6 separate regions of the Homo sapiens genome follow, and all the other regions are linked to region 6. Evidence: fine-mapped expression QTL. A gene starts in region 6. Each other region holds a variant in brackets. All regions are shown on one strand. Distances are between the middles of the regions.

Region 1 (4,087 bases), 200 kb before region 6:
GTGTATTACTTATCCAACTCTATTAATAGTCAAAGATATTAATGTGGCATCTATCATGTGACACACAGTGTACCAAAAAGAGCAGATGCAAAGCAGAAATCATATTTTTAATATATTGTTGATAGAATTATGTATATCAAATATTAGATTTTAATTTAAAAACCAAGTTGCGCCTATTGCTGGCAACTATCACATCCAGGCTGAGAGAGCAGAAGGAGCTCCTTCTGGTGGATGGAGACTTCCAAGGACGTGCAGAAGCCTCCAGCCTGCCCTTCCAAGGCTAGCTAAAGCCCCTTCATAACAACGGTTTGTCACAGTTACCCCGAGTTCCCCCAAATGAAGCATTCATTATTTCAAAGCCATTTAGCTATTAGCAACCCACAGCTTCTAAATGCTCTGTGATCATTCTACAACTCTGTGAAGATGGTCAATTAGAAATTACACTAATTTCTCTCACAGTCAACTAAAGGAGATACTGGAAATTCTTCACCCTCTATATCAAAAAGTGATTTTTAGGGGGAAGGCTTAGCTGACCAGTGGCAGGAGGGGGAGAAAGAGCTAACTCATGGCATATTCTTTGGGCAGTCTCTAGCAGAGGTGTCTAGTAGCCAGGACTGTGCTAGTAACCAAGGCTGTGCTAGTAACCAGGGCTCTGCTAGAAGCCAGGGCTCTGCTAGTAACCAGGGCTCTGCTAGTAACCAGGGCTGTGCTAGTAGCCAGGACAGTGCTAGTAGCCAGGGCTGTGCTCGTAACCAGGACAGTGCTAGTAGCCAGGACAGTGCTAGTAACCAGGGCTGTGCTAGTAGCCAGGACAGTGCTAGTAGCCAGGGCTGTGCTAGTAGCCAGGACAGTGCTAGTAGCCAGGACAGTGCTAGTAGCCAGGACAGTGCTAGTAGCCAGGACAGTGCTAGTAGCCAGGACAGTGCTAGTAGCCAGGGCTGTGCTAGTAGCCAGGGCTGTGCTCGTAACCAGGAGAGTGCTAGTAGCCAGGGCTCTGCTAGTAACCAGGGCTGTGCTAGTAACCAGGACAGTGCTAGTAGCCAGGGCTGTGCTCGTAACCAGGACAGTGCTAGTAGCCAGGGCTGTGCTAGTAGCCAGGGCTGTGCTCGTAACCAGGACAGTGCTAGTAGCCAGGGCTGTGCTAGTAACCAGGGCTGTGCTAGTAACCAGGACAGTGCTAGTAGCCAGGGCTGTGCTAGTAGCCAGGGCTGTGCTAGTAGCCAGGACAGTGCTCGTAACCAGGGCTGTGCTCGTAACCAGGACAGTGCTAGTAGCCAGGGCTGTGCTAGTAGCCAGGGCTGTGCTAGTAACCAGGGCTGTGCTAGTAGCCAGGACAGTGCTAGTAACCAGGGCTGTGCTAGTAGCCAGGACAGTGCTAGTAACCAGGGCTGTGCTAGTAGCCAGGACAGTGCTAGTAACCAGGGCTGTGCTAGTAGCCAGGATAGTGCTAGTAACCAGGGCTGTGCTAGTAACCAGGATAGTGCTAGTAGCCAGGGCTGTGCTAGTAACCAGGGCTGTGCTAGTAACCAGGGCTGTGCTCGTAACCAGGACAGTGCTAGTAGCCAGGGCTGTGCTAGTAACCAGGGCTGTGCTAGTAACCAGGGCTGTGCTAGTAACCAGGGCTGTGCTCATAACCAGGACAGTGCTAGTAGCCAGGGCTGTGCTAGTAGCCAGGGCTGTGCTAGTAACCAGGGCTCTGCTAGTAACCAGGGCTGTGCTCGTAACCAGGACAGTGCTAGTAGCCAGGGCTGTGCTAGTAGCCAGGGCTCTGCTAGTAACCAGGGCTGTGCTAGTAGCCAGGGCTCTGCTAGTAGCCAGGGCTGTGCTAGTAGCCAGGGCTCTGCTAGTAACCAGGAGAGTGCTAGTAGCCAGGGCTCTGCTAGTAGCCAGGGCTGTGCTCGTAGCCAGGACAGTGCTAGTAGCCAGGGCTGTGCTAGTAGCCAGGGCTGTGCCCTCAACCCTTGCTGCCGAGGGCAAAGTAGCAAAGTGAGTTAATTAAAGTAGCATCTGGGTTTAAATTACTACTTGGCTTTATGATTTGTTCCATGATTTCTAGCCCACGCAGGCACCTTTCCCAAGAACTGATGACCTCTTTCAGACCTGGCAATGCCCAGCACTCCGAACGCGCTGCTGGAGCTCCCCACACAAGTGGGTCACGTGTTCTCCTGCCTCTGTCACTGACATGCCTTTCCTACCTGTCTTTATGCTGGCAACTTCTTACGTTCTACGGCTCAGGTTAGACATCTCCTTCAGGCCTCCCTCGGTCCTTGTGGCTTCTTCTCTGCACGGCGGAACCTGCAAGAGC[G/A]CCCTGCCCCCTGCCAGATGGGTGCCTTCACCCCCGGAAACATTTTGTTCATCATCAGCTGCTGTGTTTCTGCTTACTTCTCTAATGAACTGAGTCATAAGAGAGAGAGCCTTGGCTAATTTCAGGAGAGAGACGGGAAGACAGGAAGGGTTCCAATTCTGTTAACAAGGAGGAGAGGGAAAGCTGGAGACACTAGTAAGAGCTGAGCATAAAGTGGGTGTTATTCCCAGTGCGCAAAGACAATCTAATAAGGCTGGATCCAGACACGTGTACTCACTCCACCTTCTAAAACAAACACCAATTAGAAAGGAACATATGTGAAGCACTAGGAATGTGCTGCGGCATGGCACCAAAAGCTGTGTGTGTGTGTGTGTATAGGTGAGTGTGTAGATGTGCATGTATGAGCATGTACCTGTGTGTATGTGTGCATGTGTGTATATGTCCATGTTTCTGTGTGCACATGTATATGTGTATGTTTATGTATGTATAGGTGGGCATGTATATATGTGTATATAGGCGTGTGCATGTGTGTATGCACATGTATACATGTGCGTGTCTATATGTGCATGTATGTGTGCGCACATGCATGTGTATGTGTGTGGGTGTGTCTATGGTGTCTATGTGTGTCTCTGTGTATATGGCTGTATGTGTATGTGCATGTGTTTATATGTGTGGACATGTATGTATATGTGCGTGTGTATGTGTGTGGCATCTATGCATGTCTATATGCATATATGTCTATGTGTGTGCATACATGTATGTAAATGTAGGTGAGTATACGTGTACATGTGTGCATGTGTTGTCTATGTGCATGTGTATGTGTACATGTCTGTATGTGCATGTGCTTATATACGTGTGTGTGTGTGTGTACCTGCTCCTCCTAAACTTGATTGTGCTGTGCGTCTGCATCCTTCCTCCAAACCTGGCCTCTGCATGCATGTGCTGCCATCCCCTTCTGGAATGACCACCGTCGATGCTCCGCCTCCAGCCAGCTCCTCCCCTTGTGTAATGGATCCTGTTCCCTTCACACCTACTTAAGGGCCGCCCTCAGGAGCTCTCTCTCCCTCCCACACATCAGCTTTTCCCTCTCTGCCAGGTTACTCCCATTAGCACAAACACATGCTCTCATAATGTCCATGTGACGAAAACAAACCTCCCTCAGGAGCTTCCACATGGCATCGCCCACCCTCTCTTGAACAGTTTAGAATCACATGAGAGCCCACCACCCTGCGTTGACACTGCTTTTGTTAAATCCAGCAATGGCCCCGTGTGCACAAATACAACGGTCCATCCTCAGTCCTCCTCGTGTGAGCCGCTCAACAGCACAGCAATCAGCTAACTGTCCCTACTTCTAGAAGGCTTTCCTGAGGCTTTTCCTGACTTCCTGATGCCACGAGTGCCTGGTTACCCTCCAACTGCCTGGCTACTTCTCTGGTCTGGTCTGTCAGTGCCTCTCCTTTTCCCAGACTCTACACACACCACCGAACGCAGGCCTCGACTGGCCTCTCCTCTCCAGCCACACGAACCACATGGGGGCTCGTCACCATCCCGTGGCTTCAGCCATTGTCTGTTCTAGGATGACACCGACCACCTTCTGATGCATTCTCAGGAAAGTAGAGCCAGGGTTTGTCCACTTGCGTGCTGCTGTATGCCCTGTCACCCTTCCTAATTTACAGGAGATGCTGAACAAACATCTCTGATAGGACCCCACACCCCACATTGCCTGAGCAGAGCTCTTGTGTCCTGCACCCCAAGACCTCCATCCACCCTCCAGCCTCATGG
Region 2 (4,087 bases), 410 kb before region 6:
TGAGTCTTTTCATCCATGGCTATGGTGCCATGAACACTGCATGTGCCTTTTATAGTCTTCAATTAGAGTTTATGCTTTGATCTGTGAAGAAAGTGCATTTGTTGGATTCATTCCTAGGTATCTTGCAGTTTTTATTCCCGTTGTCTATGATTTCTTTCTTTCTTTCTTTCTTTTTTTTTGAGATGTAGTCTCACACTTTTGCCCAGGCTGGAGTGCAGTGGTGTGATCTTGGCTCACTGCAACCTCCGCCTCCCAGGTTCAAGTGATTCTCCTGCCTCAGCCTCCTGAGTAACTGGGATTACAGGCACCTGCCACCATGTCCAGCTAATTTTTGTATTTTTAGTAGAGATGGGGTTTCACCATGTTGGTCAGGCTGGTCTTGAACTATTGACCTCAGGTGATCCATCTGCCTCGGCTTCTGGGATTACAGGCGTGAGCCACCACGCCTGGCCCATGATGTTTTATAATTACATTTTCTAGTTGTTAATTGCTGGCATACATACATTCTTTATTTTACTTTTGAAATGCAGTCCCAGGCCAGATGTGTTTACACCTGTGATCCCAGCACTTTGGGAGGCCGAGACAGAGGATTGCTTAAGCCCAGGAGTTCAAGACCAGCCTGGGCAACATAGCAAGACCTTGTCTTTACAAATAATAAAAGATTAGCCAATGTAGCCCGGGCACAGTGGCTCACGCCTGTAATCCCAGCACTTTGGGAGGCTGAGGCGGGTGGATCACCTGAGGTCAGGAGTTCGAGACCAGCCTGGCCAACATAGTGAAACACCGTCTCTACTAAAAATACACAAAATAGCTGGGTGTGGCAGTGGGTGCCTGTAATCCCAACTACTTGGGAGGCTGAGGCAGGAGAATTGCTTGAACCTGAGAGGTGGAGGTTGCAGTGAGCCAAGATCCGCCATTGTACGCCAGCCTGGGCAACAAGAGTGAAACTCCGTCTCAAAAGAAAAAAGATTAGCCGTTGCAGTGGTGTGCGCCTGTGGTCCAGCTAGTTGGGAGGCTGAGGTGGGATGACCGCTTGAGCCCAGGTGGTTGAGGCTGCAGTGAGAGCAAGACCCCATCTCAAAAACAAACACAAACAAACAAAAAAAGAAGTGTAGTCCCTCTACTGTGATACACCTGAACCCAGGCAGGAAGAAATGTCCCAGCAGGTCAGAAGCACGAGCGCCGTGGTGGATCACAGGCTTTCAACTTGCAGCCCTGCTCCTCCGCTGGGAGGCCTTGTGAGCACAGTGAGGGCCGGTGTGCAACCGGGCGGGAGGGCACATACTTCCCCGTTTCTGCCCAGAAGAGCCCAGCTCCTGCTGCAGCTGTGCAGCCAACAGAGCCTGAGGACACAGAACTGGAGCCCCCTCCCTCAGGATATGCTGTTACCTACATTAATCACAAAGAATGCTTGCTGCCCACCCGGACATGCTCTTGGGAAGTGGCGTCTGGGTGACCGAGGAGGACACCGCCCAGGGTTCCTGGTGCATCCCTTTTAGTGGCTCAGTGCTGTCCTGCCTGGAGGCACGGCCATCCGGAGGCTGCGCCAGGAGGCCCTGAGGCCCCACTCTGAGACCTGGGGCAGATCCACAAGCACAGAGGGCTTGGCTTGGCACAGACATTTTCTAAGTTTCTCTCTGTTTAAGTGAGGAACTTATGGGAGCTGGGTGTGGGGCATGGGCCTGTGGTCCCAGCTACTCAGGAGGCTGAGGTAGGAGGACTGCCTGAGCCCTGAGAGGTCGAGGCTGCAGTGAGCCGTGATGGTGCCACTGCATTCCAGCCTGGGTGACAGCAAGAACCTGTCTCAAAAATAGATAAATAAGAATCTATGGGAAGAAACTGCTTTAATGGGCAGCAGGCCGCCTTCTGGAGTGGTGAGAATCTTCTGGAACTAGATAAAGGTGGTGGCTGCACAACTTGGAAAATGCACAGGCTGGGTGCAGTGGCTCACACCTGTAATCCCAGCACTGTGGGAGGCCAAGGTGGGAGGATCACCTGAGGTCAGGAGATCGAGACCATCCTGGCCAACATGGTGAAACCCC[A/G]TCTCTACTAAAAATACAAAAATTAGCCAGGCGTGGTGGTGCGACCCTCTAGTCCCAGCTACTTGGGAGGCTGAGGCAGGAGAATCGCTTGAACCTGGGAGGCGGAGGTTGCAGTGAGCCAAGATCACGCCACTGCACTCCAGCCTGGGCAACAGAGCGAGACTCCACCTCAAAAAAAAAAAAAAAAAAAAAAAAAAAGAAGAAAAGAAAAAGAGAAGGGAGAGATGCATGGGTCTGGGCTCTGCACTTCTAGACTGCATGGTCACTTGGGGGGCAGCAGCCACGTCCCAGGCACGATCCTCCTGGTGACTCTGCCAGGAAGCGACACCTTGGGTCGGGAAGAACAGAGAGGTGCCCTGGGAACAGCAGTGACACGAGCAGAACAAACAGAGGGAAAAGGTGAGAACGAGCACATGGAGAACATTCAAGATGCCAGAAAACAAGAAACAGCCTCCAAAGCACCAGTCTCAGGGGTGACGTGGGGAGCCTGGCTTGCGTGTGCCTGAGCTGGGTGTGCCCAACTGGGCAAGCGGGTCCGGGAGAGGCGAGTGGGGGCTGGGGCAAGCGGAGGTCACGCCTTGGGCCTCCTGCAGGCTCCCTGCAGCAGAAGCTGGCGGAGGGCCTGAGCTCCTCAGTTCCAGGGGAGGATGAAACCTCTGCGGCTCCACGGATCCCCGTGGTGACCAGATCAGATGTGCTGTGGGCCCTCCGTGAGCACCTGACGAAGATGGAGAGCACCACTTCTGTCTTCAGCCCTTGGCCGTTCATGTGAGTTGTTTATTCCCTTAAATGTAATACCGCGGAGGGAAACCAACCTGCTAATACCATTAATCTATCAAATGCCAACACTGGGTCCTGGTGACTGTGACTTTCAAGAAGAGTGGTGGCTGTGCTGTGGTCAGCATTCACGGCTCTGGATTTAGGCAGTGTGACTCCAATCGATGACAAATAATTACCCTCAGGCCCGTGAGACATCCCCCAGCAACCTGCTGGAACTCGGGCCCTCCCTTGACACCGTGACCTCATTGGGTGAGTGCCGAGCCGGCGTCCCAGGAACGCCCACCTGTCCCTGCACGTGTGTCTGTGTCCTGGTGGCCTCTTCTTGTAAGGACACGAGGCACATTGGGTTAGGGCCACCCTGGTGACTTGGTTTGACCTTAATCACCTCTGTAAAGGCCCTGTCTCCAGCACATAGGCCGACGTACCCGGGTAGGACAGTGACATGCCGGCATGGGGGACATGGCACAGCCCGACCCTGGGCCTCAGGTGTCCATCTGAACCAGAGGCTCTGGGCAGCTGTCCCTCGGCCCGAGCGTCCTGCCATGGAGGGGTATAGTCAGGTGAACCCTAAGTCCTTTTTCAGTTCAGATTCTGTGATGCCGAGTGAACTGGTTTGAACCAGTCCTGGACACATAGCAAAGCCGCAGCAGCAGTGACACACCCGCCTGCTGCCCACACCCAGGTTTCCCATGTCCTGTGCAACCTGAGGGAGCCCAGAGCTGTGCCTGGTGCCCCAGCCCACAGCTGGCACAGCCTTCGGGGACTGGGGCCTGGAGCTCTTACGTCTGGCGAGACGCCTCTGCTGCCTTCCCCCGCAGTGAGAGCCTCGTTCTCTGACCCCGAGACCCCTGAAGTGCAGCACAGGCTCCCACTCTGAAGGAAGCACTGGAGGGTCTGGGCCGAGAAGGCCGCTTTTCTCGTCAGTGCTGCTTCCTGATATGTAAGCTGGGCACTGCCATCCTGACCCGGAGAGACTGAGAGCCCGTGGGGCAGCACAGGCCACCAAGTCTTGTTTCCTGCAGCGTGGCCCGGTGTGGATGTGTGGATGCTTCTGGGGGTGTCAGGGACCCCAGGCCCAGCCGGGTGTGGACGTGTGGATGCTTCTGGGGGGTCTCAGGGACCCTGGGGCCAGCCGGGTGTGGACGTGTGGATGCTTCCGGGGGGTCTCAGGGACCCCGGGGCCAGCTGGGCATGGACATGTGGATGCTTCTAGGGGGGTCTCATGGACCCCGGGGCTAGCCACGGGTGTGTCCTTCCAGCACTGC
Region 3 (4,087 bases), 350 kb before region 6:
CACAATGGGATTCTGTGTAAGTTATGACTTCTAAACACTTAGGTAAGCACGGTGGTTTCCAGGTGGTGTGAGTGACACCTCACTGAATATGAATGAGGCTGGCTTTGCAGGGGCGACTTTGTTTTCTTTCCTTCCTAAACTCCAGCTCATTGTGAAACTCTTTCCTGTCAAATTTCCTAAGATTTGAATGATATACGAATAAAACTCAGTTTTCTCCAGTAAAAAAAAAAAAGTCAGGAATCACATTGTATAAGAAGGATGGTGGAATGGGGAGTCCAGCTCCTTCGAGAAGACAGAAAAGAAAGAACCGGCAGAGGAGAAAACTCATGGAGGCCAAGCCCCTGTGTCCGGGCCCCAGGCTGCTGTGTGCTTCCCGTCTGGGTGGCCCTCAAATGAAACTGCGATTCTTCGCCCTGTACTCCACCGAGACCAGTACCGAGGATAACAACGGCATTCACTCATCACAGACAAGAGCTAAGTTTCACACAGGAGTTGGGCGGGGCCTCCGCAGTCCCTCTTGCCTGTGGACAGCACCCAGGGCCTCAGGCATGGCACGCGCACAGCAAACAGCAGCCTCAGCAAGTTCAGCCACCTGGAAACTCCACAGCTGTGAACTTTCTGTAGCCTTCGCCAGCAGAAGGGGAGATGCCCATGTGGTATCCAAATGCCCAGGGGGAAAGGGAGGTGCTGTGGGCGTGGGGACCTGCAGACGGAAGCTCTCAATGGTGCCATGGTGACCCAGCGCCACACTGCCTGGCTTGAGCTTCCTGGATCAACAAAAGGTGCGGTTCTGCACACTTGCAGGCCAGGTGCAACTTTTTATTTTGATTCTTACTTGATGGCCAGATACGTGTGAGTGGAGGGACGAGAGTGAACCGAGAACCCCATGGAGCATGGGCCAGGTAGGGTGGCGGGGCCACCAGGCCCTTGGCAGACGGTCACCAGGTGAGCACCGAGGGGTGATGCTGCTGTCGCTTCCTGTGAAAGAAGAAGGCCAGTCGAGCACAGTGGCTCATGCCTGTAATCCCAGCACTTTGGGAGGCTGAGGCGCGCAGATCACCCGAGGTTGGAAGTTCGAGACCAGCCTGACCAACTTGGAGAAACTTTGTCTCTACTAAAAGTACAAAATTAGCCAGGTGTGGTGGCATGCGCCTGTAATCCCAGCTACTTGGGAGGCTGAGGCAGGAGAATTGCTTGAACCCGGGAGGCAGTGAGCAGAGATCGCGCCATTAAACCCTAGCTGGAGTGACAAGAGGAAAACTCCATCTCAGAAAAAAAAGGAAGGCCACAGTGAGCACACGGCCCCAGGAGGGCCACAGTGGAAGCAGGGAGACCCGGGAGAGAGCTGCGACCACCAGGCCAGAGCTGCTGGCTCAGGTGGCTGCGAGGCGGGGAGGAGACGGCCACAGATGCCCGGCTGAGAGAAGGATGTGTTGGGGCACAAAGAGGAGTCCCCGACTCCTGGCCAGGAGTCAACCTGAGTAAACGCCGGTCCCCTTGGCTGCAGAGGGAGGACGCCCACTTCTGCAGGGAGGGGTGGGAGATGCCCAGAGCCGATGGTACTGGCTTCGACACAGGTGGCATTGGGTTTGCCTGTTCTGTACTTTTGTGCCCCAGCATGCACAGTGGGGGCACTGTCAAAATATCTGTCCAATCCGTGGGAGAATCCCAAGCCCTCTGACTCACAGGAGTATCCTTGGAGGCCAGGGTGCGGGCAGGGTGTGCCCTACTGTCAGGCTCTCTGAGCTGAACTCAGCCTTGTTTTTCTATGGCCTGTGTATGGTTCTTATACTTTTTAAGTGGTTGAAAAAAAAATCAAAGGAACAATATTTTGTGATGTGAAGTTACGCAAAATTCAAACTTCAGTCCACACGGTTACATAGCAACATGGCCAAGTTCATTCACCTACACGCGGTCTCTGGCTACTTTTGCACCACA[C/A]TGGCAGTGTTGGGGAAGTGCCAAGGGGCAGTCCCACCTGCAAAGCTCTTTCACAGGAAGAGTTTGCAGACTCCTGCTCTAACCTACACGTGACGGAAGGGAGCTATCACCTTGACCTTGATGAGCGTGAACTGGGGCAGAGGTGGCACTAACCTGCTGGAGGCGCTAGAGAGCTATTCACAGGAGCTGTGGCCGGGGCCAGGGGAAATGTGTAATCAAAACAGAATACTATGAATTTACATTTTCTAGTACTTAAAAAAAAATTTTTAAATACCTTTTTTCATTGTAGATTTATAAGTAGAATTTCTGCAGACAGGTTTTAAAAGACTCTTGCAGGCTAGCCTGGAAACCTAACCACTATATGTAACATTAATTCTATTTAAAAAGTGTATTCCAGTTCAAAACAAACATCTTACAAGTGACGTTAGAATATATTTCATTGGTGACTTGGCAATACCTTGATTTATACTCGAATATACGGAGTCAACTCTGCGCTTTCTGGGCACTTGGCATATTTTAGTGGACAGCCAAATGCACAAAGCTGCAACGTTATTTCTCAATGAAAATTAACAAGTTGGCGTGTCTGGGCTAAGCTGGCGTGTCTGGGTTGTTGTGTAGTGAACCTTTCAGTTCTCCATACCCTGGAGGGCATGGTGCAAGCTCTGGACTCGTTCTATCCAGAGGTGCTCAAGGCAGCAGCTGGCCAAGGCTGGGAGCACACCCACAGGGTTGCCCGGTGGGAACTGCCTTGGCGGATGCCCTGCGTCTGTTTCGGGTCTTTGGGCTCCTGTCATGCGCTGCTGTCATTGTGGCTGGACCGCCATCCCCAGGAACCACAATGGAAGTAGAAAGAAAGCTTGAAGCTGAACACAAGTGAAAAGCCCATCATCAAAACTCACTAGACGGAGACGGCGGGGTGAGCAGGGGCGGGGTGAGCAGGGGTTGGGTGAGCAGGTGCGGGGGGAGCCGGGGCGGGGGGAGTCGGGGCGGCGGGGGGTGGGGGGAGCGGGGGGGGAGCGGGGGCAGGGGTTGGGGGAGCCGGGGCAGGGGTCCCGCAGACCTGAACACACACATTAGGAAGGAAGAAAAACTCAAAGTTAATGAGCTGTTTTTATTTTCTGTTTGAGAACTGTAACAGGACAAGAGAGTGAACCTAGAGAAAACAGTAGAAAGGAAACAAAATAAAGTACTGGAATAGAAAAATAAAGATAAAATAATGCAGTAAATCCACAAAGCCTAAAAGTTAGAACTTGAAGACACTAAAGAAATGAACAAACATCTTAGAGGATTAATCAGGAAAAAGGGGAAAAGGCAAATAAACAACAATAGGAATAAACGGGGACATATCTAAAGAGGCAGCAGATTGGGAATATCAGTAAAAGCAGCTAAAACAATAAAGAGACAGCAGAGATTAGAGACTCATGAGAATACTGCAGACAGCCTCAAGGGAAAGAATGAGAATACTTAGCTGAAATGAATAAAATCCTAGAAGAATAAAACTTTTTGAAGCTAGCTTATGAAGAAATAGAGAATGTAAATAATCCTATCAGCATTAAAGAAATGGAATACAGAATTCAAACCCACCCTCACAACACTACACTAGCCCAGACAGTTCAGGGGCAAATTCTACTCAGACACCGAAAGAACACATCATCTTTGTCTTATAAAAATTGCCCCCGAGGACAGGGAATGACGGCGCACTCCTGAGCCAGTTTTTTTGGACAGGGAATGAGGGTACACTCCTGAGCCAGTTTTGTTTTGTTTTGTTTTGTTTTTGTTTTGAGATGGAGTCTCACTCTATTACCCAGGCTGGAGTGCAGTGGCGTGATCTTGGCTCACTGCAACCTCTGCTGCCCGAATTCAAGCAACTCTCCTGCCTCAGCCTCCCAAGTAGCTGGGATTACAGGCACCTGTCACCATGCCCGGAGGAGCCAGTTTTACTAGGCAGGTACAGACTCAATGTCTAAACCAGCCAGGTCAGGACAAGAAAAGTCACAGCCCAACCCACTCGTGAATGCCAATGGGGAGCGCCCAAAGAAATAGCTGGTGAGCGTAAGGCAGCGATGTCAGGGGACATTACCACGCTGGGTGCCCCCAGAAATGCAAGGATATTTCACAAGAAATTCAATCATGTAATTCCCTACCCTAA
Region 4 (4,087 bases), 220 kb before region 6:
TCGTTCGAGGCCACGTTGTCAGGTGCACACAGTCATCATCAGTATATACCTTCCTGCTTTCCTGTTCGTTTTACCACAATACAACATTTTTCTTTGCCCCTCTCAATAATTTATCTCAGCTTCTGCTTTAAGTCATATTGGGACTGGCCACCCCAGCTTTCTTTTAGCTCGTATTTCTCTTTTTCATCTTCTGATTTCCAACCTTTGAAATACATGTTCTTATTTTTTATTATTATTATTTTTTTTTAGAGACTGGGTCTTACCCTGTCACCCAGGCTGGAGTGCAGTGGCACAATCACAGCTCACTGCAGCCTTGAACTCCTGGGCTCAACTGATCCTCCTGCCTCAGCCTCCCGAGGAACTGAGACCACAGGCATAAGCCACCATGTCCAGCTAATTTTTAAATTTTTAGTAGAGACAGGGTCGTGCTGTTTTGCCCAGGCTTAAACGTTTTGCTTTAAATCTGTGTCTCATGGACAAGAGACTGCTGTATCATGATTTTAACCAACACAAGAATCATGGCCCTTTGAGAGGTGAATTCAATTCGTTTACAGTTACAACTTTATTTCAAAACATTTTAGCCATCGTATCTCACACTTTCTATTTACTAAGCCTGTCTTTTCTCCTTTTCTACGTTTTTTTTTAGAGAGAAGAAAATGTTATTTCCTAGATATTTAAACTTTGTCTCTGCCTCTCATGTTTCTCCCCTTCCTTCTAGCTCCATCCCTTTGGTGGGAACTCCTCAAACAAGCTTCTCAGCTTCCTGGTTTATTCTTGGCTCTATCCATAATGTTGCTTTTCAATCCATCTCTTCAATTATTTCACCAATTATATTTTTTATACTTAATGCTTCCAACTGGTCTTTCTTCCTGTTTCTTCTTCATATTTCCAATTGTCTTTTATCACTTTTATTTATTATTGGATTACTTCTCTTTTCACAAGGGCGGTAGGACAAACTCTTTCTTTCCACCCTCTTATTTTCCATCTTTCTGAGCCCCAGACACAGCACAGCAGGCCATGCCTATCAAGGGCAGTGGGAGGAGAGCCGAGTGCCCTCAGCCTTGCCTGCACCCTGGGGCCCTCGCCAGCTCCACTGTCTCCTCCGGCCTCACCCCTCACCCCAGCCCCCAGTGGGGACTCAGCCATCTCAAGGGACCAGCAAAGTCTCCGGCTGTGCTGCTGAGTGGGCTCCCTCCAGGATCATCAATCTCACTCTTTCCTGCAGCACCCGAGGACGGGGTTCAGCCGGGGAGTCAGCAGCCCGTGCCCCTCCATCTGCTTCAATTCCCTTTCTTACCGCATCCATCAGGTGGTTTTTACACGTCATCTTTTAAAACGGGAGCTCTATTACAATACATTATGATATTCATCTTAATTGAGTATATGTCAAGAGACTGGAACAGTGAGAGAACACTGTCTTGTTTGGGGAGAAAAAATATTTTCCTCTGGAAACGGCCTGGAAGCTGCCGCGGGGACTGTGTGAGATCCATGATACTGAGGCTCTACTTGGAAACGTCATAAAGCCGTTTCTCCAGACGCAAATTCCAAATTAAACTTGCCTACGACTAAGGTCTAAGATACAGAGTGGGATACTACAAAAGAGCATTTTATTCAATAATGTGTCCCGGTTACTTCACCCTCTGGGAGGACCAGTGAGCTCCTCTCCCTTCGCACATATGCAGGAAGACAAAGTCATCGGACTGTTGTTGAAAGGAAGCGGCAAAAGACCCGAGAGCACTGAACGGGCAGAAGAAAGTGTGTTCTCTGGCAAAGCAGATGTATTTTAGAAGACTCCTTGGAGAACACATGGTTAACTCTATCATCAAAACCACAAGAATTTATGTTTCTAAAGGTAATTCTGAATGATTCTTGGTTGAGTCATCAGGAAAAAATACGAAGCAAATGTCACAGCAAATGTCTGAAATGAGACAGGCACTGCAAACCACTTAGCCTGGCCAGACAGAGCCACGCTGAGCCTCCACCCAACCTGCGC[G/A]CCAGGAAACCCATGCATCTTCCGTCTCCTGCGGGCAATGCAGGAGCGAAACTTTCCACGCTGACAAATACACGTTAATGCTCTATCATTAACATTTATAGTCCTGGAAATCCTTCAACTTAATTGAAAGAAAGGAAGTAAGTTTTTTGACCTCTATTCAATCCAAAATAATGTTTATCATTTTCATTAATAGACAATACTAGTGCATGCAGCACAGTGCAATAGACATCAATCTGTTTTATAGCAAGTCCCACAGCAAATGAAGTCCCACTGGGTTATAATTTTCAGTAGTATACAAATAGACGCGTAATAAATCTAAAATGATATTATGCCACTCAATCAAAGAAGTAGAAAACAGCCAAGGGAAAAAATATATTTTGGATTCTTACAGTGTATTGATGTATATGGTGAGTAAGATAATCATTTATGTGGAAAGTAATGTCATTGCTCATTTTGGAATTATTGAAATCAGTTTCCAAAAATGAAAAAGACAGGCAAAAATGAAAAAAAATTAGAGAACAATGTCTTCCAACAAGTTCATCATCAAATAAGATTCATAAATACGCTTGCCACCAAGTACACATGTACACATTTTGTCCAAATGAAGCAAAGCTGTATGTTGTTTACCCAGCACACCGCATTCTGTAGCAGCTGTGCCAGCATAATGAGGGCAGCGTGCTTAGAAACCGTTTCTCTTATTTACATAGTAAAGGGAGGGAGGGAGGGAATCCACCTTCCCGAGCATCGCCCTTCTCCAGGTCACCTGCAGACCGGCAGACACGCACAGCCGTCATCTGCAGCCCAATCCTAGTTCCCTTTTCTGGAGCAGGAAGTGCCAAGCTATAGCTCCTGGGCCAAATCTGGCCAACTGCCTGTTTCCTTAAAGAAAGCTTGACTGAGGCTGGGTGCGGTGGCTCGTGCCTGTAATCTCAGCACTTTGGAAGGCTGAGGCGGGCGGATCACCTGAGGTCAGGAGTTTGATGCCAGCCTGGCCAACATGGTAAAATCTCATCTCTACTAAAAATACAAAAATTAGCCAGGCGTGGTGGTGGGCACCTGTAATCCCAGCTACTCGGGAGGCTGAGGCAGGAGAATCGCTTGAACCGAGGAGGTGGAGGTTGCAGTGAGCCGAGATCACGCCACTGCACTCCAGCCTGGGCAACAGTGAGACTCGGTCTCAAAAAAAAAAAAAAGAAAAAAGAAAAAAGAAAGCTCGACTGGAACACAGCCATGCTCATTTGTTTATATATTGCCTGTGGCTCTTTCGTGCTGCAACAGCAGACTTGGGACTGTGTGGCCCGAAAAGCCTAACCCAAGTGCGTCTGCCCCTTCACAGAACCAGGTCTGCCGACTCCCATCAGAGTGCCAGGCTGAACCTTCCCACCCGCATACTCCTGGCGCCTAAATCCCAAAGCCCTACGCTCCGGCTAAATAAAACATGGAACTTCAACATAGTGAAATATAAAATGATACTTACTAAGAGTCTCTAATGATCTAGGGCAGGGAACTCTAGTATAATGCGAAGGGTTAAGGATATGAAATCGTAAATTCTGTCCACTTACATCAGTGCAAAATGTACATGCACAGAAAAAAGACCAACAGGCAATACATCAAAAAGTGAACACTAGTTGTCCTTAGATGGTAAAATCTTGGATGATTTTTTTCTACTTTTAACTTTTTAGTAATTTTCTGAAAAGAATGTATCTTTCATTTTTAATTAGAAAAATTGACTTTTCAAAATGAAAAAATAAAACTAAAACCCTAAAAACATACGTAATTACTGTCTGACAAACTATCTCACTCTTCCATTAAAAAAAAAAACCCTGGTGGTTTTTAACTTAGCTCACACAAAACTACACATTTCACTTGATAATTCTTTAATGAATATAGTCCATTACCACTCACAGGCCATAGACACCTAGCAAAATGTCATGTTCAACCTAATTTCAGCACTTCAATATGGGAGAAAGCAGTTTATTGTAAAAGAGCCGCCACCTGAGACACCGCTCAATTGTTCCAGGCAGTGGTTATCTGATGACCACTGTCTGCCACTGTGGCATATTGATTTCAAAGTCCCTCTTATGGTAACTGTAT
Region 5 (4,087 bases), 150 kb before region 6:
TCACTGCACCAGGGTACTGGACTCTACCTGCTGATTTACTCATCAGCCTTCACAGTTGACATTAAATAAATATTTGTGCACATACAAATGATGAATAAATACTTCCTATTGGAGTTTACACAGCCCGATGAGCTTCTCCAGAGAAAGCTGTTTTATCAAGAGCTTGGGGTCTCTATTTTTATTTTGAGGGCATTTTAAACAATTCCATTTTGATGGGTTGGAGTACAGCAGTGAAGCAAGGCTTTTGCTCCAACACCCACTTTCCTTAGCAGACAATCTAACTGCCCAGACAAAGGGATCTGCTGCTCCATGCACATAAGCTCGAGGCAGATGCTGGGGGAATCACGGGCGCCTGAACATCCAGGAAGCACCCAGGGTAACCTAGCAATCAGACACAAGCTGGCGCTTCCTGGCCAGCAGGCTCGCCTGGGTTTCCCCAGGAATTGGATGGGCACTACCCCCTGAAGAGCTGCACCACTAGTCAGGTGAGGGCCGGGACAGCCTTCCATGAGCAAGACAGAAGGAAAAGGACTGACTTGGTGACTGGCAGAACAGGCTTGTCTTTCACGGATTATACCTGCATGAATGGTAATAAAAGACATTTCCTTTGTTCCAGATAAGGCTATGGAGAAGCAGCGGCACATTTGTCTATAGAAATCTTTCCAAACATAAAGATTAAGGAGAAAAGAACAAAAGGGAGGATGTTAAACGGTGACGAGGCTGAGGAGGTTGACCAGCTGCCGGCCTAGGATGGAAGGTGCCCCCACGTAACTCCAGCTCTTTCCACTTCCCGCTTTGTTTCCTTTGGCTGGAGGACAATGTGGATCAATGGCTGGAATGGCCCCCGGGGAGCAGGCCATGACCACATGCTGGTGACAACGGTGCAGAAACCTCTGCAAACGAGGAGCTGGTGTCTTTCTTTGCTCCGTCCCGTCACTTTTCACGCTATCCTCCACGTGGTTGCTGTACCTAGATGGCTCCCACAGGAGTCAGTGAGGCCTGGGTGGGGGTGGGGCGGCAGCCCCTCTGCATGGGGCCCAGTGCCTGGTGCGCCCGCACTGGCCTCACGTGGCTCCCCTGCTCACTCGGCCTACCTGGCCTGTCACCTCTGCCTCTGGCCCATCCTCCTCTGTGGACCCTCAGTCGCCTCCGTTCCTCACCCTCCTACTTTCACAACACCGTTTCCCCATAGGGCACCTTCAAGAGAAATCTGGTCAAATTCCCCACCTTGCCCCGCACCCACCCGTCTGGGATCCTTGTCTACTCGCTGGCCCCACCAAATCAGCCAGCAGAAACTCAACCACCAAACTCTGCCAGCAGAAACCTCACCACTACCCTCAGCTCCTGCTCCTGCCATCTCCCTGGTGCCCAGTGGGTCACAGGAATGTGTCCCTCTGACTTCGCTGTACCACCTCTGCCTTCATGGGAGTCAAACACCCCAACCACCTTCAGGCCTCCAAAATGACCCCTCTCCAAGTCCCCCCATTCTGTCAGAGCCTTCCTCCTTAACGCACAGCAGTCAGGCCACCGGCCCCTGAGACAAACCCTCTGTGGGTGGGTCAACAGGCTCCCTGCCCAGCACCACCTGCGAGCCCTCTGCTCAGCCCAGTGTCCTCACCACGTTCCCACCGTGGCTAATCTCTCATGACTCCATGCCTCTGCACAAGGTGGCTCCTTGGCCCAGACGTTCCCAAGTCCCTGACGTGGCTGTGCACGGTGCCACCTGCACCTATCACGCCGCCACCTGCACCTATCACGCCGCCCTCCTCCTCCCTTACAAGGTCCTCACCAGCTCCCTGGGGCTCACAAGGTGCTTCTGATACCGATGGGAGGTAGTCAAATGCCTAGGCAGACAGGGGCAGGTCCCTGGTGAAACCTACCTCCAAGCCAAATAACAGCCTGAAGGCTGAAAGACCAGACGGCAGGTCCTGGATAAAACCCAAGACCCAGAGCAAAACTCCTATTCCCGTTTGCCCACCCTTTCCCAATTGATTCTTTCTGAATAATGCCTTTTAACCAATCAAATGTTGCCTTTTCCAATACTAC[C/A]TACAGCCTGCCCCTCCCCTATTCTGAGCCCACAAAAGCCCCAGACTAAGACACACTGGAGGGATTTTCCCACCTTCGGGTGGGGGGACCGCCCCCATGTCCCCTCTCTGCAGAAAGCTCTTTCATCACTCAGTAAAACCCCTCACCTTGCTCACTCTCTGACTGTAGGCACATCTGCATTCTGCTTGGATGCTGGACAAGAGCTCAGGACCCACCAAGTGCTGGTACCAGAAAGACTGTCACACTAGCCCTTTGCTCCTGCTGGCAGAGGGCAGCCACCCTACGTGATGGGGCCAGGGGGCGACGGAGCTGCTAACATGCCACCATCTGTTGGACTGTGGATGGAAGAACTAAAAGAGCTAATGAGCACACTAACACCCACTCTGGGGCTTCAGGGTCATGGGCACCCTTGCCTGGGTGCCACCGTGTTCCCCTCAAGGTGACACACCTGGTCTGGCTGTGGGCCCCGCATGGAGTTTGCTCCTGTATTGGTGCTTGGGGGGGCTGGCTGGATCCCACACTCGCTCACTCACGTGCTCCCGCCTGCAAACGGCTGAGTTCGGCGGCATCCCTGCTGCAAGTCCAGCAAAGAGGCCAAGAGAAAATTCCTGTGTCCCTTCTGCGCCCACTGCAGAGATCCAGGCTCTGACGCACCAGCCGGCCTTGCCCCGGGAGGCCATGGCCACTAAGAAGAGGCCTCTCAGGTCCCAGTCAGCCCCTTGCTTCTGGGCACAGAGTCGTCACCCAAGAAAAGGCTGTGGAATGAATCTACATGGGAATTCTGCTTACTTGGATTAATATGCTGCTCGCTTTGAACTAACGAAAGCCGAGCTCCACTATCCCAGTATCATTTTTTTTGTCCCAACATGGACCTCAGAGTTAAATTTTTATTGGGAAAGATGTAGGGCAAGAGGCTGTGCAGTACAAATTCTGTCCCACTCTATTTGCATATTTTATTTGCTCTTTAAATGTTTTCAATATTTCATAATAAGATGCCATTCTGTGTAATCTTTTCCTGATGCTATCACTGTAAGGCTGGTTTCCTCCCCCTCCAAAATCTCTTAATGAAAAAACAAAACAAAACAAAGCTGCCACTTATCTTGTCTGTTTAAATGGAACCCTGAGTCTTTGAAATTTAAAAGGGAGAGGAAGCCTGAACTCCAGGCTGCAGCCCTGCCGGAAAAATCTATCCTGCCCTACAGGGACTCACAAGAACAAGGCCAGTCGCCAGATGCCACCTTGGCTCTGAGAGTCGCACACTCAGAAACAGCAGAGACACGGCCAATTTCCATCTAAGATGTAACCAGCATCCTCTGCAAACTCTTCACAGAAAGATGGGTCCGGGGTAGATCAAAGCCAGCTCACGCAGGTAGAAAAGGCAGCCACGAGGCCATGCAGGGCAAAAGTGGTCTGCGGCCCTTGGCCCACCAGCTCCAGCCACCCCCAACGCTCCTCCCTGGCCTTGGTGCCTCTGCATCCTGAGCTCCTGTCACTCTGTAAAGATGGGCCTCAAGCGACTTGTTTTTCAGAAATAAAAGAGGTGACCTTTGGAAGAAGTCTATAAATACAAAAGTCACACCACTCCACTGGCTCCTTCTCACGATTATTCTGGAATTCGGGGTAACGTGCAGAGACTAGGAAGCCCAAGGTCATCCTGCTTTGTTTCCTGTAAAACAGCTGCTTGGGAAGACGCTGGCTCTGGGTGGCTGGCAGGCATCCCCAGGCACTCTCGCAGTGGAGGTGAGCTGGAGAGAAGTGACGCAGGTGAGCCCACACGTGAGCCACCCACCTGCCCCTCTGTAACAGAGGCCACTGTTACAGGGAGAGAGCACAGGTCCCGCCCAGAGATGGGAAACTTAAGTCTCAGCCCCAAATCAATGATTCACCAGCCATTCGACCTGGCAACGTCATGAACAAAACCAAACCTCAATTTTCTCCTCCACAAACAACTAAACTAACGCGGGCCCTGCCCGGGTGGCTGATGTGAAAGTCTCGTGTGGAAATGCTCGGGCCCCCGTGGCAGACAATGTGGGGGTGAGTG
Region 6 (4,087 bases):
GGATTACGGGCACCTGCCACCAAGCCCAGCTAATTTTTGTATTTTTAGTACAGACAGGGTTTCACCATGTTGGCCGGGCTGGTCTCAAACTCCTGACCTCAGGTGATCCGCCTGCCTTTGGGAGGCCTGCCTTGGCCTCCCAAAGTGCTGAGATTACAGGCGTGAGCCACCGCGCCCAGCCCAGAAGTGTAATCTTATATATGTTCAACATCATATACTAAAAAACAATAATATTCCATAAACATATACATAAGCCTAGAGAAAATCAAACATTGTAACACCAACTTCCTCTTTTATACCACTGAAATGTGCAAATAAAAGCAGCCTGGAGGGAGAAAATAACTTACAAAAAGACAAATTATAAGTGTGCATAGAGGAGAAGCAGTACTACCCTTTTGCTTTTGAGGCCAGGAAATAGATGGGTGTTTTATGAAGGACAAATCCAACAAAATTCGGCTGTTTTCTTTCCTACCAGCTGCTTGTGAGTCACTCTCCACACTCCAAACACCATGCGGACACCCTAAAACCTGCACCCAAGTCTCGACGCCTCATACCCTAACTCACGATTAAAGAAATCCTGTTTCCAAGTTACAGCAACAGGACACTACATAAAAGGAGGAAAATCTAGCTTCAAGAGAAATTGTTTAGAAGACTAGAATGAAGTTCAGTGTAACTTTATAATAACTTTGCACTAATTTGTTACTAGTTGAACATTTTCCAGTAATCTCATTTCCTAGCATAGTATATCAGACTTCTGCACTTCACCCAGCTTGGATATTTTAAAAAGTAGACTAATCATGTGGGTATAAAGATTATATCGCACGTTGTCCTTCCTCTAAGTGTTTACAGAACTAAGTAGTATGCCAAAGAGCATGTAAATACTCGCAATGCTCTATTTTCAAATTTGCTTAACTTTTATTATCTGAATTAGAACTTAGTTGGAATTGAATTAACACTACCCAGTGAATAATGACTAACCAAAACAGCATTTTCCATTTTCAACCAAAAACTGCAGTCTGAAATGGCTTTTGCTTTCTAGTTGACTTACAACGTGTGGCTAGGGGGAAATGTCGGCGCTTTCCCAAGGACACTTTTCGGGCTGTAAACTTTCTTTGTTGGGGAAACTACCAAGTTCAAGGGGTGCCTTCAGAATCCACTTACCCGATCCTTCATCCTCCAGCTCTGAGCTAAGGATTTGGAGCCTTCAATTTTCTCACAGTGCCTCTTTTTCATAAAAGCCAAAGGTAGGTTCCAGTCTGTAAGATCAGCCTCATCTTCCTCCCCCAGGCCCAGAAGAGGCGATTGCAGCATTTCGGACTCCATCAGTGGGGGAGGGGGTGGGGGAGTCCTTGGCAGCAAGCGCTCGAGAACCTCCAGCCTTAAAAACTAGCGTGTACCAGAATTGGTGAAATAAGAAACAAAAACGGGAAATCGAAAACCAAATGGATAAAGAGTGCGGAGACCCTTACTCAGGCAAAAGTCTGAGATCCTTATCTCTAACTCTGAGCGGGAAGTGGGGAGGTGGGGGCCGCTAGGAAATGGGGCAGCCCAAGAAGCTCCGCAGACACACACCACCCCAGGTCCCAAGCCACTGGCTGCTCCTGAGGCTGTACGTTTCCAGAGGGGCTGCGAGGGGAGCTGCCAAAAGCGTAAGAGACTTCAGGCCTCACGATGACCCTGCTCTCGGCCTCCACCGCCTCAGCAGTTCCGAAGACAGGCAGGCCGCTCTTGGTGCCGGTTCGCCCACTGGGCCGACTGGGCTGAGGTCTCCGGCCAAGGGATCGGGTTCAAAGGGCCCTGGGTCTCCTCCAGCCACTCTCAGCCCTGCGGGTCCCGCACTCGTCTGAGCTGCTGCAACCAGAGCCACGACCGGCCCATCGTGCTCGCCTGCACCCGGTTCCTCAACCTCAGGTCCGCGCGGCCTGGCTGGTCCTGGCCTTCAGCCCCGAGGCTCTCTCCTGCCTGAGAACGAGTCCTGAGAAACGGGCGACACGGAACCACGGAGGAAAGGGACAATGTGGGCTTATTGGGTCATGGGAGCTTTGCCCTCTGGTTTGGAGCTACAGTGAAACTCATCTCATCAGCCCATCAAGGAGGACGCCATATTGCCAGGACCCAGAATGCACCGCGGCCTACGGCGTGGCCGACAGACCAAACCTCCTCAGAGCGGTCTCTCCCCGCCACCCAGCATGCAGCGAAGGAGAAAGAGTCCCCGACCCCGTTACCTCGGTTACCATAATTCCGTTTTCCCCAGTTAATCGCCATTTGTTCAGTAGAGGCGTGTTATTAAAGTCAATCCTACAAATGAAACTGTCGGTTTAATTTATTTTTTCAAAAACATTGTCATTATAAATGAAGTTACATGCTCCTGAAATTAAAGGAATCAACCGCCTTGTTTCTTCCAGATTTTGAAAAAGCGGCAAAAGCTTCACTGATAATATTAGAAAATATTAAAAAGCACTGATAATATTAGAAAATATAGTACTTTTTTTTTTGGAGTGTAGTGTCCTCCACAGTGTCAATCAGATTTTCTCTTTAATTTTTTCATAGAGAACCAAGTGAAAGGCCGGGCGCCGTGGCTCACGCCTGTAATCCCAGCACTTTGGGAGGCCGAAGCGGGCAGATCACGAGGTCAAGAGATCGAGACCAGCCTGGCCAACATGGTGAAACCCCGTCCCTACTAAAAATACACAAATTAGCTGGGCGTGGTGGTGCGCGCCTGTAATCCCAGCTACTCAGGAGGCTGAGGCAGGAGAATTGCTTGAACCCGGGAGGCGGAGGTTGCAGTGGGCCAAGATCGTGCCACTGCACTCCAGCCTGGGAGACAGAGCAAGACTCTTCAGATGAAGAAGGGTCTGAAGCAACAGAAGAAGAGTCTGGAGCAAGATTCGATGAAAAAAAATTTCATCTAATACAATTTTTTGTTTAATCTGTTTCGTTTTCTGAGCAGTTTATCCTTTTTAAATTTTTTTCCCACTTCTTGGTAGCAGTAGTTTATTCTTATTTTGATATAGCTTCACGTGCAGACATCTAAAACTACATGTCTGTGCGTGGAGGCAAGCCTCTTGTGTGACTCTCTTTTTCAATTCAGGAAATTTGGCTCATTTACAATGTATAGAGAACTGTGTAAGGTGGACTATAAAACCAAATGTAGGCAGGGCACCGTGGCTCACGCCTATAATCCTAGCCCTTTGGGAAGCCGAGGAGGGTGGATCACGAGTTCAGGAGTTCGAGACCAGCCTGGCCAACATGGTGAAACGCCGTCTCTAATAAAAATACAAAAATTAGCTGGGCGTGGTGGCGTGCGTCTGTAGTCTCAGCTGCTCGGGAGGCTGAGGCAGGAGAAGAGCTGGAACCTGGGAGGCAGAGGTTGCAGTGAGCCGAGATTACACCACTGCATTCCAGCCTGGGTGACAGAGTGAGATTCCATCTCAAAAATAAATAAATAAATAAATAAATAAATAAGAATAAAACGAGGCCAGGCGTGGTGGTGCACGCCTGTAATCCCAGCACTTTGGGAGGCTGAGGTGGGTGGATCATGAGGTCAGGAGTTCAAGACCATCCTGGCCAAGATGGTCTTGATCTCTCAGGATGGTTTTCCGGGGCTTAGACACATGTGGCCATCCATATCAAAATCTTGATGGCATTTGTGTTCCTTTCAAAATGAGAATGAAGAATACAATCCCAGACCTTTCTCACCCAGCACAAAGCAAGCCTTTAATAAAGGCTACAGGATTAAATCATTGTCATTCCGCACATTCGTTTGGTTATTACACCCCATGGAGCCAATTCTCCTATTGAAACTCAGGGCACCCTCTCTGTTGGCAGAGACTATCCTCACAGTTACCAGCAGAGGCTTCAGGGATGCAGGGTCTTAGGAAGACCCCGTTCTCATCTGAAGGCAACAAAATCACTCCTGTCCTCTGCCTTGTCACCTTGCTCCCCACCTCCGGTGGCTGTAGACAGCTGCATTCCAGCAGCTCTTGCAGGAAGTCACAGTTACAGAAAAGCAGCAACGCTAAACCCATTCATCCCTAACTAGCTCTGTGACCTGGGAAAGCCCACTGAATCTGTGTGAGACTCAGTT

Alleles and levels. Alleles are on the strand shown, and positions count from the first base shown. SD is a standard deviation of normalised expression in the study named. Not every link is listed here.
With allele A in place of C in region 3, the expression in monocytes after LPS of the gene that starts at base 2,115 in region 6 is higher (large effect, 0.85 SD a copy in Fairfax 2014).

The links.
Region 1: its variant is fine-mapped to the expression of RPTOR in whole blood (TOPMed, PIP above 0.99).
Region 2: its variant is fine-mapped to the expression of RPTOR in whole blood (TOPMed, PIP 0.99).
Region 3: its variant is fine-mapped to the expression of RPTOR in monocytes after LPS (Fairfax 2014, PIP 0.95).
Region 4: its variant is fine-mapped to the expression of RPTOR in whole blood (TOPMed, PIP above 0.99).
Region 5: its variant is fine-mapped to the expression of RPTOR in whole blood (INTERVAL, PIP 0.97).

The regions. Positions count from the first base shown.
Region 1 is chr17:80,741,536-80,745,622 of GRCh38, reverse strand. The region is part of intron 5 of RPTOR (regulatory associated protein of MTOR complex 1); the gene reads right to left. Among named protein-coding and RNA genes, the nearest start is that of RPTOR, 200 kb to the right of the region's middle. RefSeq lists a silencer at 1,655-2,009. The variant G/A (reference allele first, on the strand shown) is at 2,306.
Region 2 is chr17:80,951,009-80,955,095 of GRCh38, reverse strand. All of the region lies in intron 28 of RPTOR (regulatory associated protein of MTOR complex 1), which reads right to left. Among named protein-coding and RNA genes, the nearest start is that of CHMP6, 39 kb to the left of the region's middle. The variant A/G (reference allele first, on the strand shown) is at 2,043.
Region 3 is chr17:80,897,525-80,901,611 of GRCh38, reverse strand. The region is part of intron 20 of RPTOR (regulatory associated protein of MTOR complex 1); the gene reads right to left. Among named protein-coding and RNA genes, the nearest start is that of CHMP6, 92 kb to the left of the region's middle. The variant C/A (reference allele first, on the strand shown) is at 1,939.
Region 4 is chr17:80,759,407-80,763,493 of GRCh38, reverse strand. All of the region lies in intron 6 of RPTOR (regulatory associated protein of MTOR complex 1), which reads right to left. Among named protein-coding and RNA genes, the nearest start is that of RPTOR, 220 kb to the right of the region's middle. RefSeq lists enhancers at 1,916-1,965, 1,261-2,460. The variant G/A (reference allele first, on the strand shown) is at 1,994.
Region 5 is chr17:80,695,227-80,699,313 of GRCh38, reverse strand. The region is part of intron 3 of RPTOR (regulatory associated protein of MTOR complex 1); the gene reads right to left. Among named protein-coding and RNA genes, the nearest start is that of RPTOR, 150 kb to the right of the region's middle. RefSeq lists a silencer at 671-965 and an enhancer at 2,060-2,587. The variant C/A (reference allele first, on the strand shown) is at 2,047.
Region 6 is chr17:80,542,866-80,546,952 of GRCh38, reverse strand. RPTOR (regulatory associated protein of MTOR complex 1) reads right to left here and starts at 2,115. Exons shown (of 34, transcript NM_020761.3): 1 at 1,162-2,115. The coding sequence starts at 1,323. RefSeq lists enhancers at 768-1,594, 1,522-1,621, 1,902-2,261, 1,595-2,421.